Regions from separate parts of the Homo sapiens genome. Here region 2 is linked to region 1. Evidence: fine-mapped expression QTL. Tissue or cell type: cerebral cortex. Region 1 holds a variant in brackets; the other region holds the start of a gene. All regions are shown on one strand. Distances are from middle to middle.

The links. PIP is the estimated chance that this variant, and not a neighbour inherited with it, causes the effect.
Region 2: it holds the start of PPP1R12C, and the variant in region 1 is fine-mapped to the expression of PPP1R12C in cerebral cortex (GTEx, PIP above 0.99).

What each region holds. Positions count from the first base shown.
Region 1 is chr19:54,832,084-54,840,324 of GRCh38, reverse strand. KIR2DS4 (killer cell immunoglobulin like receptor, two Ig domains and short cytoplasmic tail 4 (gene/pseudogene)) reads right to left here and starts at 7,618. Exons shown (of 7, transcript NM_001281972.2): 1 at 7,527-7,618; 2 at 5,211-5,246; 3 at 2,450-2,749; 4 at 626-897. The coding sequence starts at 7,560. The variant T/C (reference allele first, on the strand shown) is at 3,889.
Region 2 is chr19:55,113,701-55,121,700 of GRCh38, reverse strand. PPP1R12C (protein phosphatase 1 regulatory subunit 12C) reads left to right here and starts at 4,064. Exons shown (of 22, transcript NM_017607.4): 1 at 4,064-4,478. The coding sequence starts at 4,158. RefSeq lists enhancers at 681-770, 3,709-3,988, 4,949-5,028, 5,429-5,478, 4,833-5,668 and 2 more and silencers at 4,049-4,128, 4,319-4,398, 4,419-4,518.

The sequences.
Region 1 (8,241 bases):
TCTACTAAAAATACAAAAAGTAGCCCGGCGTGGTGATGGGCGCCTGTAGTACCAGCTACTCAGGTGGCTGAGGCAGGAGAATCGCTTGAACCCAGGAGGCGGAGGTTACAGTGAGCTGAGATTGTGCCACTGCATTCCAGCATAGGAGACAGAGCTAGACTCCACCTCAAAAAAAAAAAAATGTTAAAAGTGGTAAGCTATATAGGTATATTTAACCTCAATGAATATTTTTTCAAACAAAAAGAAAAGGATGTAGGGGTTGCTGGTGATGACATCTCTGTGTGGGTGAGAGGCCAGGAAGGGCTTCTGGGAAATGGGTAAGGTTGAGGGGCTGAGGGAACCTCTGATCTCCCCAAACTGAGCCCAGTCTCCCCTTCTCTGGGTCTCTCCTGACCGCTTTCTACATCTGCCTGGGTTTCTGGAGCCCTAATCGGAGGCCTCCATGCAGGCCATGCAGGAGGGTTTGGAGGTGCTGTGTGTGCCATCCTGCGCCCTGATCCCTCCCTCACAGGCATGCTGCGTCTTCTCTCTGCATCTGTCCATGCTTCTCTCCATCATCAGCAGGAAGCTCCTCAGCTAAGGCTCTAGGATCATAGGACATGGGACAGATATGGGGTTTCCTCACCTGTGACGGAAACAAGCAGTGGATCACTCGAGTTTGACCACTCGTAGGGAGCGTCACGGAAAGAGCCGAAGCATCTGTAGGTCCCTCCGTGGGTGGCAGGGCCCAGAGGAAAGTCGGCCTGGAATGTTCCGTTGATGCTGCGCACTGCAGGGAGCCTACGTTCATGGGCCTCCCCTTCCCTGGATAGATGGAGCTGCAGGACAAGGTCACATTCTCTCCTGCCTGAACCGTGGGGCCCGGCTGGGCTGAGAGAGAAGGTTTCTCATATAGACCTGGAAGGAGAAGGGGCAGTTTCCTCAGGGGGGATCTTCCTTGTCACAGCTCCCCTCACACCTGACCTGAGAACTCACTCCCCTGCTCTATGGCCTAATGCTCTCTTTCTCTGTCTCACCCTCCACCCTATCTCTCTTCATGTCTATTTCCTCCTTCCACCTTCTCTGTCTCTGTAGGTCTCTGACCTCACTTCCCTACCTCTAGTTATGTTTTCCGTTTTTGGATTGTTTTATTCTCTCTGGCTCTCCTTGGATTGGTTGACTTGATGTTACTTTTTTTAACTCTGAGTTTCTCAGTTTGTGTCCCGTTCATAACTTTCTGCATATTTCTATCTATTATCTATCAATCCATCTATTTATCTATTCGGTGCCTATCTACAAATTCTCTACCTGTCATCTATATCTATATATCATCTATTTATCTATCAATTGTCTATCCGTCAATCATCTATTATCTATATATATGTATCATCTCTCTCTCTCTATTATTTCTCTCTTTGTCTTCCTCTCTATCTCTATGTATTATCTATCCATCTATCTTCATCATCATCATCTCTATGTATCATCTATTAATGAATCAATCAATCATCATCTATGTATCTATAACCTATTATCTATCATCTACCTATATATCATCTATCTATATCTATCCATCATCTATCTGTATCTATCCATCTATCATCTGTCTTGCTCTGCCTCTCGGTCTCTCTAGTTCTCTTTGGAATCTCTGCAATTCATCCCCACATCTCCATCTTTCTATGCCCTTGTGCCTCGCCCTCAGGACTCTAATTTTAGTGGTTTTCTCTGCTCTCTTCCATCATTCTCTCCACTTCTCTGCCCTCTTCTCTCTCTTTATGTGTCTGTGAGTCTCTCAATCTCCTTCCTCTGGCTCTTTCTCTGTGTGTTTATGTCTTTGCTTTTTGGTGTCCCTGATTTCTCTCTGTGCTTCTCAGTGATCCTCTCATATGTGATATGTGGGGTTATTTGGAATGTGAGCCTCAGAATCCAGTCTGGAGACCACAAGTTCACACAGCATACAGGGGTTGGTGTTCTGGGGCCATGATATTTTGGGACGATTATTCTCCATTGCATGGAAGTCAGAGGTGTCAGAATAAGCATGGCATCTGTAGGTGCCACAAGGCCTGAGGCCACAGGGCCCAACTCAGGTCAGAAATATGGGTGTCCTTGGGTTCTCCTGGTAGAGAACACTTTGTGGAGGTAAAACAGAAATGAAACTTCTAACCTGTGCCAGGTCTCTGAGCAAAGTCAGCATGGAAGGACACCTCTGTCTGGGACATGTCTGTCTGTCTCCTTTAACTCTTTCTGTCTTTTCTAACTCCCTGTATGGCCCCTGTGTTTGTCCTCTGTTATGACACCTGGTCTGTACTTGTGTCTCTTGTTTCTCTGTCTCTGTTGGCACAGACCTCACCAAGTCAGTCTCTCTCCATAAGAATACCAAGCTCATCTTCCTTACAACCACCTGGGTCTCCAAGTCCTGGATCATTCACTCTGCATCCCAATGACAATGAGAAGAATGTCTGGACACTCTCACCTATGATCACCATGTCCAGAGGGTCACTGGGAGCTGACAACTGATAGGGGGAGTGAGGAACAGAACCGTAGCATCTGTAGGTTCCTGCAAGGACAGGCATCATGGGACCAATGGAGAAGTTGGCCTTGGAAACCCCATCATGGTGCTCTCCAATGAGGTGCAAAGTGTTGTTAAACTTCCCCTCTCTGTGCAGAAGGAAGTGCTCAAACATGACATCCGACCAACATTGCAGGATGACTGTCTCTTCTGATTTCACCAGGTGACCTGGGAGGGCCAGGAAGGAAGGTTTTCTGTGGACTCCTAGGAAGAGAGGTTGTGAGTTTAGAAGGTGTCTCTCTTTATCATCCCATCCATGGCACCTGGAATGAGTGAGCCTTCCCTTCGCTGGTGTCTGTCTCTCTGCTTCCTCTCTGTGTCTTCATGTTCTTTTCTGTGCCCATAACTCCTGGTGCAGGTCCTTCCATCTGTCTCCCTCCCTCTTCTCTGTCCCTCTGTCTCTAGTAGCTGTGATTCCCTTCCCACTGGGCTCAGCCTCATCTCTTGGGCTGTTGTATCTATTTCACACTAATGTCTTTCTTACTGTCTATGTGGGAGTGGAAGAGGAAGCAGGATAGGCTGCACGTCCCGGCTCTTAGCAGCTTGGTTCAATCTCTTTTGGACGAATTGGAATCCTTGGCAGGAGGTATGAACTGATCAGTAAGGCAGGCACCAGTGTCCACACACCCTGTTCCTGGTGGGGACTGGGAGCCACTCTTGCCATGTCTGTGCCTTCTCCATGGTGCCAGTTTCCATAGGCTGGCTCCTCGTGCTGATTTGAGGAGTATCAACCCCTCCCTATGTGGATGGAGCCTGGTGGTGGCATCATCATCCCACCCTTGCTGATCTCGGTGTAGCCAACCTTCTCTTTGTTTGGTTTCTTTAATTAATTAATTAATTTTGGAGACAGAGTCTCACTCCTTCACCCAGGCTGGAGTGAAGTGGTGTGGTCTACGCTCACTGCAACCTCTGTCTCCTGGGTTCAAGCGATTCTCCTGCTCTCAGCCTCCCGAGTCGCTAGGATTACATGCACCTGCCACCATGCCTGGCTATCCTTGTGTCTTTTCTTAACTTGTCCTTGACCTGGGTTCCAGTGTTGGTTTCCTGTTGCTGCTGTAGAAAATTATCAGAAGCATGGCAGCAGGAGAGAGCACACTGACCCCCTCCGATTCTGGAGACAGAAAGCGGACCCTGTTTTTCGAGGGCTAAAATCAAGGCATCTGCAGGGCTGTGTTCCCTCTGGAGACTCAGGAGAATCAGTTACTTGACTTTCCCAGCCTCTATAGGCCACCTGCATTCATGGCTTATGGCCTTCATCCACCTTCAAAGCTGATGGAGTCTCCCACTACGCTGCTCTAATCCCCACTCTCCTCTTCCTCCTCCTTTCATGTGGACACTTGTGA[T/C]TATACTGAGCCCACCGGGACAGTCCAGGCTGTCTCCCCATCTCAAGGTCAACTCATCAACAACCTGAGCTCCATCTTCCCCTTCAGTCCCTTCCCCTATAACATAAATAGTCACAGACTCCAGGGATTAGAATGCAGTCATCACTGGGGACACTTATTCTTCCCACCACAGCACCCATTTCCCTGTATTCAATCCCCCTTTACCCCAAATACAGTTAGGGCCTGCGTGATGGGACCCTCAAGGACATGCCTACCAGAAGCTCTGGGATTCAGGAGGTGGGACAAGGAGAATCCCAGACAGGAGCCCTCTGACCTGTGACCACGATCACCAGGGGGTTGCTGGGTGCCGACCACCCACTGGGGGAGTGTGTGTGTGAACCCCGGCATGTATAGGTCCCTGCATGTGACGTGGTCACAGGGCCCATGAAAAGGCTTTTCCAGAATATTCTGTTGTACAGCTCAGGGACAGGCACCCCATCATCCTTGTACAGACTGAAGTTGTTAAACCCAAGATTAGAGTGACACTGAAGAGTCACATGTTCTGGAGGCACCACAAGGCTGGGCCAGGTAGAAAGCAAGGGCTTGTCCTGACCACCTTGGGGTGAAGGAGGCGCCGCCTTAGAGAGGAGGATGTGGAGCTGTGCCTCCCTCCCTGTGCTCAGAAGATTCTCCCCACTTTCCACATTTCTATGGCTGCTATCACACCTTGGTGCCTAGGGCTAAAGGAAGGACCCATCCCACAAAGACAAGGTGTCTCCGTACAACAAAAGTGTCAGCTGAGAACTTTGAGCAAGTGCTGAGTAAGAGACTCCTACTAGATTTTAATACTGTAAGATTACTGACATAAAACAACACAGGGTAGACATGAAGTGGAGGGCATGTCCTTTGAGAATGGAATATCAGCAGTTGCCTGAATGAAAATAAAAAACTTAGCCCCCATCAGAGGATTTGGAATGTCAGGGCCATGGCTGTGGTTTCCCACCTCTTCTGGTAGAATGACAGCAGCCACACTGCAGCCCCTACCGTCATGGAAACGCTGAAGTGTGTGAGTAACACCTTTGTCCTCAGAGGATCTGCTGTTCCTACCACTTCCCCACCACACAACCCAGCTTTGAACACCCTAGTCCAACCCTGGTCCCCACACAACTTGACTCTGCCAAGGGGTTGAGAGGCCAGGGAGGCAAGGTCGGAACTGTGGGCCGAGCACCCCAGGGTCCCCTCTTCCTAGTTTATGAGAGACTCCCTGACAGGACTTCCCTCCCGTTTCAGGAAAATCCTCTTATGTGGGGAGATGACACCCTAAGGTTTGGAGAAGGACTTACCCTCCTGTGGCCAGGCCCCCTGCAGCAAGAAGAACCCTGGAAAGAAAGATCATGATGGAAGATCCATTTGCAGGCAAACAAGGCCTTCCTTGCTGCCCCCACTGGGCTGTGAGTCTTGATAGCCAGCCCCTTCCTGGGCCGAAGGGAAACTCACCATCAGAGCCTACCTGCACCCAAGAACAGTGCTCTCGGCTGTGCAGAGACCCAGCCTCCAGGCCCATATCCCCACCCCAAGCCCATATCTCCACTCCAGGCCCATATCTCCACTCCAGGCCGATATTTCCACCCTAGACCCATATAGCCAATCCGGGCCCACATCTCCAATCCAGGCTCAGATCTCCACCCTCGGCCCATATCTCCAATCCAGGCCCATATCTCCACTCCAGGCCCATATCTCCACTCCAGTCCCATATCTCCTCTCCAGTCCCATATCTCCACTCCAGGCCCATATCTCCACCCCAGGCCCAGATCTCCACCTCCAGGCCCATAACTACACTCCAGGATCATATCTCCACTCCAAGCCCATATCTCCACATCAGGCCCATATCTCCACTCCAGTCCCATATCTCCACACCCAGGCCCATATCTCCATTCCAGGCCCATATCCCCATCCTAGGCCCATATCTCCACCGTAGGCCCAGATCTCCACTCCAGGCCCATATCTCCACTCCAGGGCCATATCTCCACTCCAGGCCCATATCTACACACCAGGCCCATATCTCCACCCCATGCCCATGTCTCCACTCCAGATCCATATCTCCACCCCACGCCCATATCTCCACTCCAGGCCCATATCTCCAACCCACGCCCATATCTCCACCTCCAGGCACATATCTCCACCCCACGCCCGTATCTCCACTCCAGTCCCATATCTCCACTCCCGGCCCATGTCTCCACCCCATGCCTATATCTCCACTCCAGTCCCATATCTCCACTCCAGGCCCATATCTCCACTCCAGACCCATATCTCCACTCGGCCCATGTCTACACTCCAGGCCCATATCACCACCTCCAGGCCCATATCTCCACTCCAGGCCCATATCTCCACCTCCAGGCCCGTATCTCCACTCCAGACCCATATGTCCACTCCAGGCCCATATCTCCACTCCAGGCCCATATCTCCACTCCAGGGCCATATCTCCACTCCAGGCTCATATCTCCACTCCAGGCCCATATCTCCACTCCAGGGCCATATCTCCACTCCAGGCTCATATCTCCACTCCAGGCCCATATCTCCACTCCAGGGCCATATCTCCACTCCAGGCCCAGATCTCCACCTCCAGGCCCGTATCTCCACTCTAGTCCCATATCTCCACTCCAGGCCCATATCTCCACCTCCAGGCCCATAACTTCACTCCAGGCCCATAACTCCACTCCAGGCCCATATCTCCACCTCCAGGCCCATATCTCCACTCCAGGGCCATATCTCCACTCCAGGCTCATATCTCCACTCCAGGCCCATATCTCCACTCCAGGGCCATATCTCCACTCCAGGCCCAGATCTCCACCTCCAGGCCCCTATCTCCACTCTAGTCCCATATCTCCACTCCAGGCCCATATCTCCACCTCCAGGCCCATAACTTCACTCCAGGCCCATAACTCCACTCCAGGCCCATATCTCCACCTCCAGGCCCATATCTCCACTGCAGACCCATATCTCCACTCCAGGCCCATATCTCCACTCCAGGCCCAGATCTCCACTCCAGGCCCAGATCTCCACTCCAGGCCCAGATCTCCACCTCCAGGCCCCTATCTCCACTCTAGTCCCATATCTCCACTCCAGGCCCATATCTCCACCTCCAGGCCCATAACTTCACTCCAGGCCCATAACTCCACTGCAGACCCATATCTCCACTCCAGGCCCATATCTCCACTCCAGGACCATATCTCCACTCCAGGCTCATATCTCCACTCCAGGCCCGTATCTCCACCTCCAGGCCCATAACTTCACTCCAGGCCCATAACTCCACTCCAGGCCCATATCTCCACTCCAGTCCCATATCTCCACTCCAGTCCCATATCTCCACCCTAGGCTCCTACCTCCCCTCCAGGTTCCTATCTCTCCTCCAGGTTCCTCTCTCCACTCCAGGTTCCTATCCCCACTCCAGGCCCATATCTCCACTCCAGGCCCAGATCTTCACTCCAGGCCCAGATCTCCACTCCAGGCGCAGATCTCCACTTCTAGGCTCATCACTCCATCTCTAGGCCCAGATCTCCACTCCAGGCCCATAACTCCACCTCCAGGCCCATATCTCCACCTCTGGGCCCAGATCTCCATCCCCACGCTCCCTCCCTCTATTCCCTTCCAGGACTCACCAACACACGCCATGATGATGACCATGAGCGACATGGTGCTGCCGGTGCAGACAGGCGGCCGCGCCCCAGCTCAGCTCAGCAGCGCACAGGATGTTATTTGGCGCCCTGCCCATGCAGTTTACATGTTGACCACATCATGGGAGGGTGACGTACGCAGGCTTTTTCTACCTTGCATGAGGCCCAGTGGGTGCTCGCTCAAGAGCAGAACATGGCTTCCTGGAAATTGCTCTCACTAGAATTGACACCTCGCGTCCTTCACTATGACCAACTCAAAACATGTCTTAGATCCAACCTCCCAAACATGAGATGCCTAAAATCTGTGCTAACATGAAAGACTTTTCATGAATTTTTATTGTTTTTATCTGAGATTCGAACTCTTCTTCCTGTGTAATATGCAAAATATCTAATAGGTATTATTAGTGTTTTCAGAGTCATTGTGACTAATAAACCATTAGAATTGTTCATGCTTGTATTTCTAGTATTACAGCAGAACCAGTTCAAATGATTTAAATTCCCAGGGAAGGATTATGCAATTATTTACAATCTTAGAATTGTACTTTATCAGCAAAAACCACACATGTAAATTCTGGATTTTTGTAGTTTTATCTATAATTTGTCTCATGACTCAAGATTCCAGAGTCCCAACTCTGGAGTTTGCTCTCTCTCTGTCTCTCTGCCTCCCTCATTTTAAATTTTACAGAAATATCCAGTAACA
Region 2 (8,000 bases), 280 kb before region 1:
TTATAATGGCAGTGCTAAACTAACAGTGTCATTGAGGAGTTATGTTTGGCTGATAGTAAGAGACAGCTCCCCAAATAACAATAGTTTTGGTGAATTGGAGGTTTGTTTTCTCATATGTAACCTAAAAGACAAGAGGTAGGCAGTCCAGGGAAGGAAAGGCAGATCCCAACTGCCATCAGGAACTGAGGCTTCTAAGGCCAGGTGCAGTGGCTCATGCCTGTAATCCCAGCACTTTGGGAGGCCAAGGCGGGCAGATCATGAGGTCAGGAGTTTGAGACTATCCTGGCCAACATGGTGAAACCCCGTCTCTACTAAAAATACAAGAATTAGCCAGGCGTGGTGGCGTGCACCTGTAGTCCCAAGAGAATCGCTTGAACCCAAGAGGTGGAGGTTGCAGTGAGCTGAGATCATGCCGCTGCACTCCAGCCTGGGTGACAGAGCGAGACTCCATCTCAAAAAAAAAAAAAAAAAAAAGAAATTCCAGTTCTGGATTTGACAGTCCTCAGATTGAACCTTGTCTTGGCCAATTTCTAGCTCTGTGACTGGGGCTAGTCTCTTAGTCTCTGCCTCCTGGAGTTGATGAGATGATGTACATAAAATATCTGATAGGCATGTGATGTTGGCTGTGAGCATCTTCATATGCCACTCAAGAACATCATCTTTTGCTCTTGTCTTCCTGTGGTAAAGGTTTTGTTTTCACTTCTAGGGTCTGCTCTTTGCTCTCAATGGTAACAGTGGAATGTTGGTGCTTAACCTTGGAACTGCAGGCCCTCCTCACTGGTGTAAATAACCTCAGAAAGATAAGAAGAAAATGTTCCCACTTCTTCTGTAACAGCAGAAAAATAGATATTAGTCTGCACCATAAAGATGGTTCAGATAAGCAGGTGAAGTTAGAACATCCACAAAAGTATAAAATTGACTCTTCTGTCCTGTGTGGAGAGGGGTAAGAGTATTATAAGCCCATTCTGATTTCTGTTATTTTACTCTTTTTTGATTGCGCCAGTGCAATCCAGCCTGGGCGATGACAAGAGTGAAACTCCATCTCAAAACAAACAAACAAACAAACAAAAACAAACCATAAACACAAACTCATAAACAACATACATCCAGCCACAGACATGATTGCAAATACACACAATTATACATAAAGGCACAGAATACATACAGAACCAGAGCTACACGGTAACACCCTGAAGACCGACTTCTTGTTTTCCTGGGGGAAGGAGGTTGGTGTGTAAGTATGTGGAAAGTGTGGGGTTCAGGGACCACACCTAAGAGCCACCAGAACTATCCCTTTCTATAGAAACAGGCTTCGTGGCGGATGAAGACCCCATCTTGGGGTTCCACCAGATATTCCTACTAAAGAACATCAGCTGGGTGTGGTGGCTCATGCCTGTAATCCCAGCACTTTGGGAAGCTGAGGCGGGTGGATCACTTGAGGTCAGGAGATCGAGACCAGCCTGGCCAACATGGTGAAACCTTGTCTCTACTAAAAATACAAAAATTAGCCAGGCGTGGAGCACGCCTGTAATCCCAGCTACTTGGGAGGCTGAGGTAGGAGAATCACTTGAACCTGGGAGGCGGAGGTTGCAGTGAGCCGAGATCACATCACTGCACTCCAGCCTGGGCGACACAGTGAGACTCCGTCTCAAAAACAAAACAAAACCAAACAAAACAAAACATCAGCGATGCAATGATGCTTGGGTTTGCACCAATGATATGCAGGCTTGCTCTGCACAACTTCAGCTGACCTCCTCTCCACCGGGCCCTCACGCTGCCTCCTCTTCCCTCCTCTTTCCAGAACTATTGCCACTCCTCCAGATATGATGCACAAATGAGCAGGGTCGCAGTGGGAGTGGGCGCAGTGCGCTGATGCCACGGAGGTGTTGTGCATGACGTCTGGACACTAGACTAGCTGCATGTAATGGGAAAAGTTTGTGTTGTACCAGCGCATGCCTTGGAAAGACTTAAGTAATGCAAAAGGTTGTCCTTTAAAAAAAAAAAAAATCTGGCCGGTCGCGGCGGCTCACGCCTGTAATCCCAGCATTTTGGGAGGCCGAGGCAGTCGGATCACGAGGTCAGGAATTCGAGACCAGCCTGGCCAACATGGTGAAACCCCGTCTCTACTAAAAAACAAAAATTAGCCGGGCGTGGTGGAGCACGCCTGTAGTCCCAGCTACTCAGGAGGCTGAGGCAGGAGAATCGCTTGAACCCGGGAGGCAGAGCTTGCAGTGAGCCGACATCGCGCCACTGCACTCCAGCCTGGGCGACAGAGCAAGCCTCCGTCTCAAAAACAACAACAACAACAAAAAAAAACAAAACTACTGACAAGTTGCTCTACTTAACCCAAAGAAAGTGAAGGAGAAAGCGGCTGCCTCACCGCCTAGACATTGAGTCGCCGGATGTTTCAATGCCTCATGATACAATAAAACCACAAAAATTTTCGTAACAGCAGCAGCAACAACAACAACAAAAGAGAAAGAGAGAGGGAAAGAAACAGGCCTCGTGGGATGCGCAGTTTACGTCTCCGCGCAAACCCAAGGACTTCAGAGTGGGTGGGAAACTCCCACAGCGCTTGGGAAACAGTCTGTAGTCTCTGTCCCGATTTTGGCCCTTTTCTGTATGATTTTTATGGGACTCTTCCTGTCACAAAGTGCCAGCCACCTTCCCAATCTTGAGTTGGGCGCGGGATCCGTAAGGTGAAGATCAAGGTGTGCTCATCGCTTGGGCCCGCTGAAAGGTGATTCGCCCCCCACCTGCTGGAACTCCTTGCCCGGGACCACCAATCCCAGCATGCCTTGAGAGCGCGCGAGGGCCTGGGCGGTTCCCAGGAGGTCCGGGTGGGCGCAGGAGAAGCGCGGGCCAGTGAAAGCTCTGAGAGCCCTGTCCCTGTGGACACTGTGTCTTGGGTTCCTTTACTCGGTGTGGCTCAGGGATTACCATTAGGGAGTGGAGTGTGGATTTCTCTTGCCCCGAGCCCTAAATGCCTTGGGGCCCTGCCTTGCACCCCACTGTGCTTTTAGGGGTGTGGCCCTGTGGGCTACATTTCCCAGCGTGCCCTAGGATCGTGGTCCTGACCTTTTCACCGCAAATTTCATTTCCCAGCATGCCCTGCGAGGTCACCCAGGGAAGCTTGGAAGTGGACTGTCTTTCATGGCTTCTAGGTTGCGGACTCAGTTTCCCATGGTGCCCTGGTGAACCCATTCATTCATTCATTCCAAAAATATTTGCGATCAGGTTCTCTCAGGTTCTGTTCTAAGAACCGAGGACAAGTAGTGCACAGAAGACAAAAGATCCCGCTCTCGTGGAGCTTATTTCTAGTTAAGGGGTCAGGAAAAAAACCAAAATAAATAAAACCCAGCTGGGCATGGTGGCTTACGCTCGTCATCCCAGCAGGATTACAGGCCGAGGCGGGCGGATCATGAGGTCAAGAGATCAAGACCATCATGGCCAACATGGTGAAATCCCGTCTCTACTAAAAATATAAAAATTAGCAGGGCGGGGTGGCGCGCGCCTGTTATCCCAGCTACTCTGGGGACTGAGCCAGAATTGCTTGAACCTGGGAAGCGGAGGTTGCAGCGAGCCGATATCGCGCCACTGAACTCCAGCGTGGCGACAGAGCGAGACTCCGTCTCAAAACAAAGAAAACAAAATAAAACAACAATAACAAAACAACTCTGCCTCTCCCCGCACTCCCTCCCACGCGGCTGTCCAGTCGAATTCCTAACTGCCCCGGGGCAGTCTGCTATTCATCCCCTTTACCCGGTGCTACACACTTCCTAGTATGCCGTGGGGCACCCCTCCGGCCTGTAGACTCCATTTCCCAGCATTCCCCGGAGGAGGCCCTCATCTGGCGATTTCCACTGGGCGCCTCGGAGCTGCGGACTTCCCAGTGTGCATCGGGGCACAGCGACTCCTGGAAGTGGCCAAGGGCCACTTCTGCTAATGGACTCCATTTCCCAGCGCTCCCCGCGACCTGCCCAGCACACCCTGGGGCAGCGCCGTGACGTCAGCACGCCGGGCGGGGACCGGGAGATCCTTGGGGCGGTGGGGGGCCAGCGGCAGTTCCCGGCGGCCCCCGGGGCGGGCGGGCGGGCGGGTGGTGGCGGCGGTTGGGGCTCGGCGCTCGCTCGCTCGCTGGGCGGGCGGGCGGTGCGATGTCCGGAGAGGATGGCCCGGCGGCTGGCCCGGGGGCGGCGGCGGCGGCTGCCCGGGAGCGGCGACGGGAGCAGCTGCGGCAGTGGGGGGCGCGGGCGGGCGCCGAGCCTGGCCCCGGAGAGCGCCGCGCCCGCACCGTCCGCTTCGAGCGCGCCGCCGAGTTCCTGGCGGCCTGTGCGGGCGGCGACCTGGACGAGGCGCGTCTGATGCTGCGCGCCGCCGACCCTGGCCCCGGCGCCGAGCTCGACCCCGCCGCGCCGCCGCCCGCCCGCGCCGTGCTGGACTCCACCAACGCCGACGGTATCAGCGCCCTGCACCAGGTCAGCGCCCCCCGCCCGGCGTCTCCCGGGGCCAGGTCCACCCTCTGCTGCGCCACCTGGGGCATCCTCCTTCCCCGTTGCCAGTCTCGATCCGCCCCGTCGTTCCTGGCCCTGGGCTTTGCCACCCTATGCTGACACCCCGTCCCAGTCCCCCTTACCATTCCCCTTCGACCACCCCACTTCCGAATTGGAGCCGCTTCAACTGGCCCTGGGCTTAGCCACTCTGTGCTGACCACTCTGCCCCAGGCCTCCTTACCATTCCCCTTCGACCTACTCTCTTCCGCATTGGAGTCGCTTTAACTGGCCCTGGCTTTGGCAGCCTGTGCTGACCCATGCAGTCCTCCTTACCATCCCTCCCTCGACTTCCCCTCTTCCGATGTTGAGCCCCTCCAGCCGGTCCTGGACTTTGTCTCCTTCCCTGCCCTGCCCTCTCCTGAACCTGAGCCAGCTCCCATAGCTCAGTCTGGTCTATCTGCCTGGCCCTGGCCATTGTCACTTTGCGCTGCCCTCCTCTCGCCCCCGAGTGCCCTTGCTGTGCCGCCGGAACTCTGCCCTCTAACGCTGCCGTCTCTCTCCTGAGTCCGGACCACTTTGAGCTCTACTGGCTTCTGCGCCGCCTCTGGCCCACTGTTTCCCCTTCCCAGGCAGGTCCTGCTTTCTCTGACCTGCATTCTCTCCCCTGGGCCTGTGCCGCTTTCTGTCTGCAGCTTGTGGCCTGGGTCACCTCTACGGCTGGCCCAGATCCTTCCCTGCCGCCTCCTTCAGGTTCCGTCTTCCTCCACTCCCTCTTCCCCTTGCTCTCTGCTGTGTTGCTGCCCAAGGATGCTCTTTCCGGAGCACTTCCTTCTCGGCGCTGCACCACGTGATGTCCTCTGAGCGGATCCTCCCCGTGTCTGGGTCCTCTCCGGGCATCTCTCCTCCCTCACCCAACCCCATGCCGTCTTCACTCGCTGGGTTCCCTTTTCCTTCTCCTTCTGGGGCCTGTGCCATCTCTCGTTTCTTAGGATGGCCTTCTCCGACGGATGTCTCCCTTGCGTCCCGCCTCCCCTTCTTGTAGGCCTGCATCATCACCGTTTTTCTGGACAACCCCAAAGTACCCCGTCTCCCTGGCTTTAGCCACCTCTCCATCCTCTTGCTTTCTTTGCCTGGACACCCCGTTCTCCTGTGGATTCGGGTCACCTCTCACTCCTTTCATTTGGGCAGCTCCCCTACCCCCCTTACCTCTCTAGTCTGTGCTAGCTCTTCCAGCCCCCTGTCATGGCATCTTCCAGGGGTCCGAGAGCTCAGCTAGTCTTCTTCCTCCAACCCGGGCCCCTATGTCCACTTCAGGACAGCATGTTTGCTGCCTCCAGGGATCCTGTGTCCCCGAGCTGGGACCACCTTATATTCCCAGGGCCGGTTAATGTGGCTCTGGTTCTGGGTACTTTTATCTGTCCCCTCCACCCCACAGTGGGGCCACTAGGGACAGGATTGGTGACAGAAAAGCCCCATCCTTAGGCCTCCTCCTTCCTAGTCTCCTGATATTGGGTCTAACCCCCACCTCCTGTTAGGCAGATTCCTTATCTGGTGACACACCCCCATTTCCTGGAGCCATCTCTCTCCTTGCCAGAACCTCTAAGGTTTGCTTACGATGGAGCCAGAGAGGATCCTGGGAGGGAGAGCTTGGCAGGGGGTGGGAGGGAAGGGGGGGATGCGTGACCTGCCCGGTTCTCAGTGGCCACCCTGCGCTACCCTCTCCCAGAACCTGAGCTGCTCTGACGCGGCCGTCTGGTGCGTTTCACTGATCCTGGTGCTGCAGCTTCCTTACACTTCCCAAGAGGAGAAGCAGTTTGGAAAAACAAAATCAGAATAAGTTGGTCCTGAGTTCTAACTTTGGCTCTTCACCTTTCTAGTCCCCAATTTATATTGTTCCTCCGTGCGTCAGTTTTACCTGTGAGATAAGGCCAGTAGCCAGCCCCGTCCTGGCAGGGCTGTGGTGAGGAGGGGGGTGTCCGTGTGGAAAACTCCCTTTGTGAGAATGGTGCGTCCTAGGTGTTCACCAGGTCGTGGCCGCCTCTACTCCCTTTCTCTTTCTCCATCCTTCTTTCCTTAAAGAGTCCCCAGTGCTATCTGGGACATATTCCTCCGCCCAGAGCAGGGTCCCGCTTCCCTAAGGCCCTGCTCTGGGCTTCTGGGTTTGAGTCCTTGGCAAGCCCAGGAGAGGCGCTCAGGCTTCCCTGTCCCCCTTCCTCGTCCACCATCTCATGCCCCTGGCTCTCCTGCCCCTTCCCTACAGGGGTTCCTGGCTCTGCTCTTCAGACTGAGCCCCGTTCCCCTGCATCCCCGTTCCCCTGCATCCCCCTTCCCCTGCATCCCCCAGAGGCCCCAGGCCACCTACTTGGCCTGGACCCCACGAGAGGCCACCCCAGCCCTGTCTACCAGGCTGCCTTTTGGGTGGATTCTCCTCCAACTGTGGGGTGACTGCTTGGCAAACTCACTCTTCGGGGTATCCCAGGAGGCCTGGAGCATTGGGGTGGGCTGGGGTTCAGAGAGGAGGGATTCCCTTCTCAGGTTACGTGGCCAAGAAGCAGGGGAGCTGGGTTTGGGTCAGGTCTGGGTGTGGGGTGACCAGCTTATGCTGTTTGCCCAGGACAGCCTAGTTTTAGCACTGAAACCCTCAGTCCTAGGAAAACAGGGATGGTTGGTCACTGTCTCTGGGTGACTCTTGATTCCCGGCCAGTTTCTCCACCTGGGGCTGTGTTTCTCGTCCTGCATCCTTCTCCAGGCAGGTCCCCAAGCATCGCCCCCCTGCTGTGGCTGTTCCCAAGTTCTTAGGGTACCCCACGTGGGTTTATCAACCACTTGGTGAGGCTGGTACCCTGCCCCCATTCCTGCACCCCAATTGCCTTAGTGGCTAGGGGGTTGGGGGCTAGAGTAGGAGGGGCTGGAGCCAGGATTCTTAGGGCTGAACAGAGAAGAGCTGGGGGCCTGGGCTCCTGGGTTTGAGAGAGGAGGGGCTGGGGCCTGGACTCCTGGGTCCGAGGGAGGAGGGGCTGGGGCCTGGACTCCTGGGTCTGAGGGTGGAGGGACTGGGGGCCTGGACTCCTGGGTCCGAGGGAGGAGGGGCTGGGGCCTGGACTCGTGGGTCTGAGGGAGGAGGGGCTGGGGGCCTGGACTTCTGGGTCTTAGGGAGGCGGGGCTGGGCCTGGACCCCTGGGTCTGAATGGGGAGAGGCTGGGGGCCTGGACTCCTTCATCTGAGGGCGGAAGGGCTGGGGCCTGGCCTCCTGGGTTGAATGGGGAGGGGTTGGGCCTGGACTCTGGAGTCCCTGGTGCCCAGGCCTCAGGCATCTTTCACAGGGATGCCTGTACTGGGCAGGTCCTTGAAAGGGAAAGGCCCATTGCTCTCCTTGCCCCCCTCCCCTATCGCCATGACAACTGGGTGGAAATAAACGAGCCGAGTTCATCCCGTTCCCAGGGCACGTGCGGCCCCTTCACAGCCCGAGTTTCCATGACCTCATGCTCTTGGCCCTCGTAGCTCCCT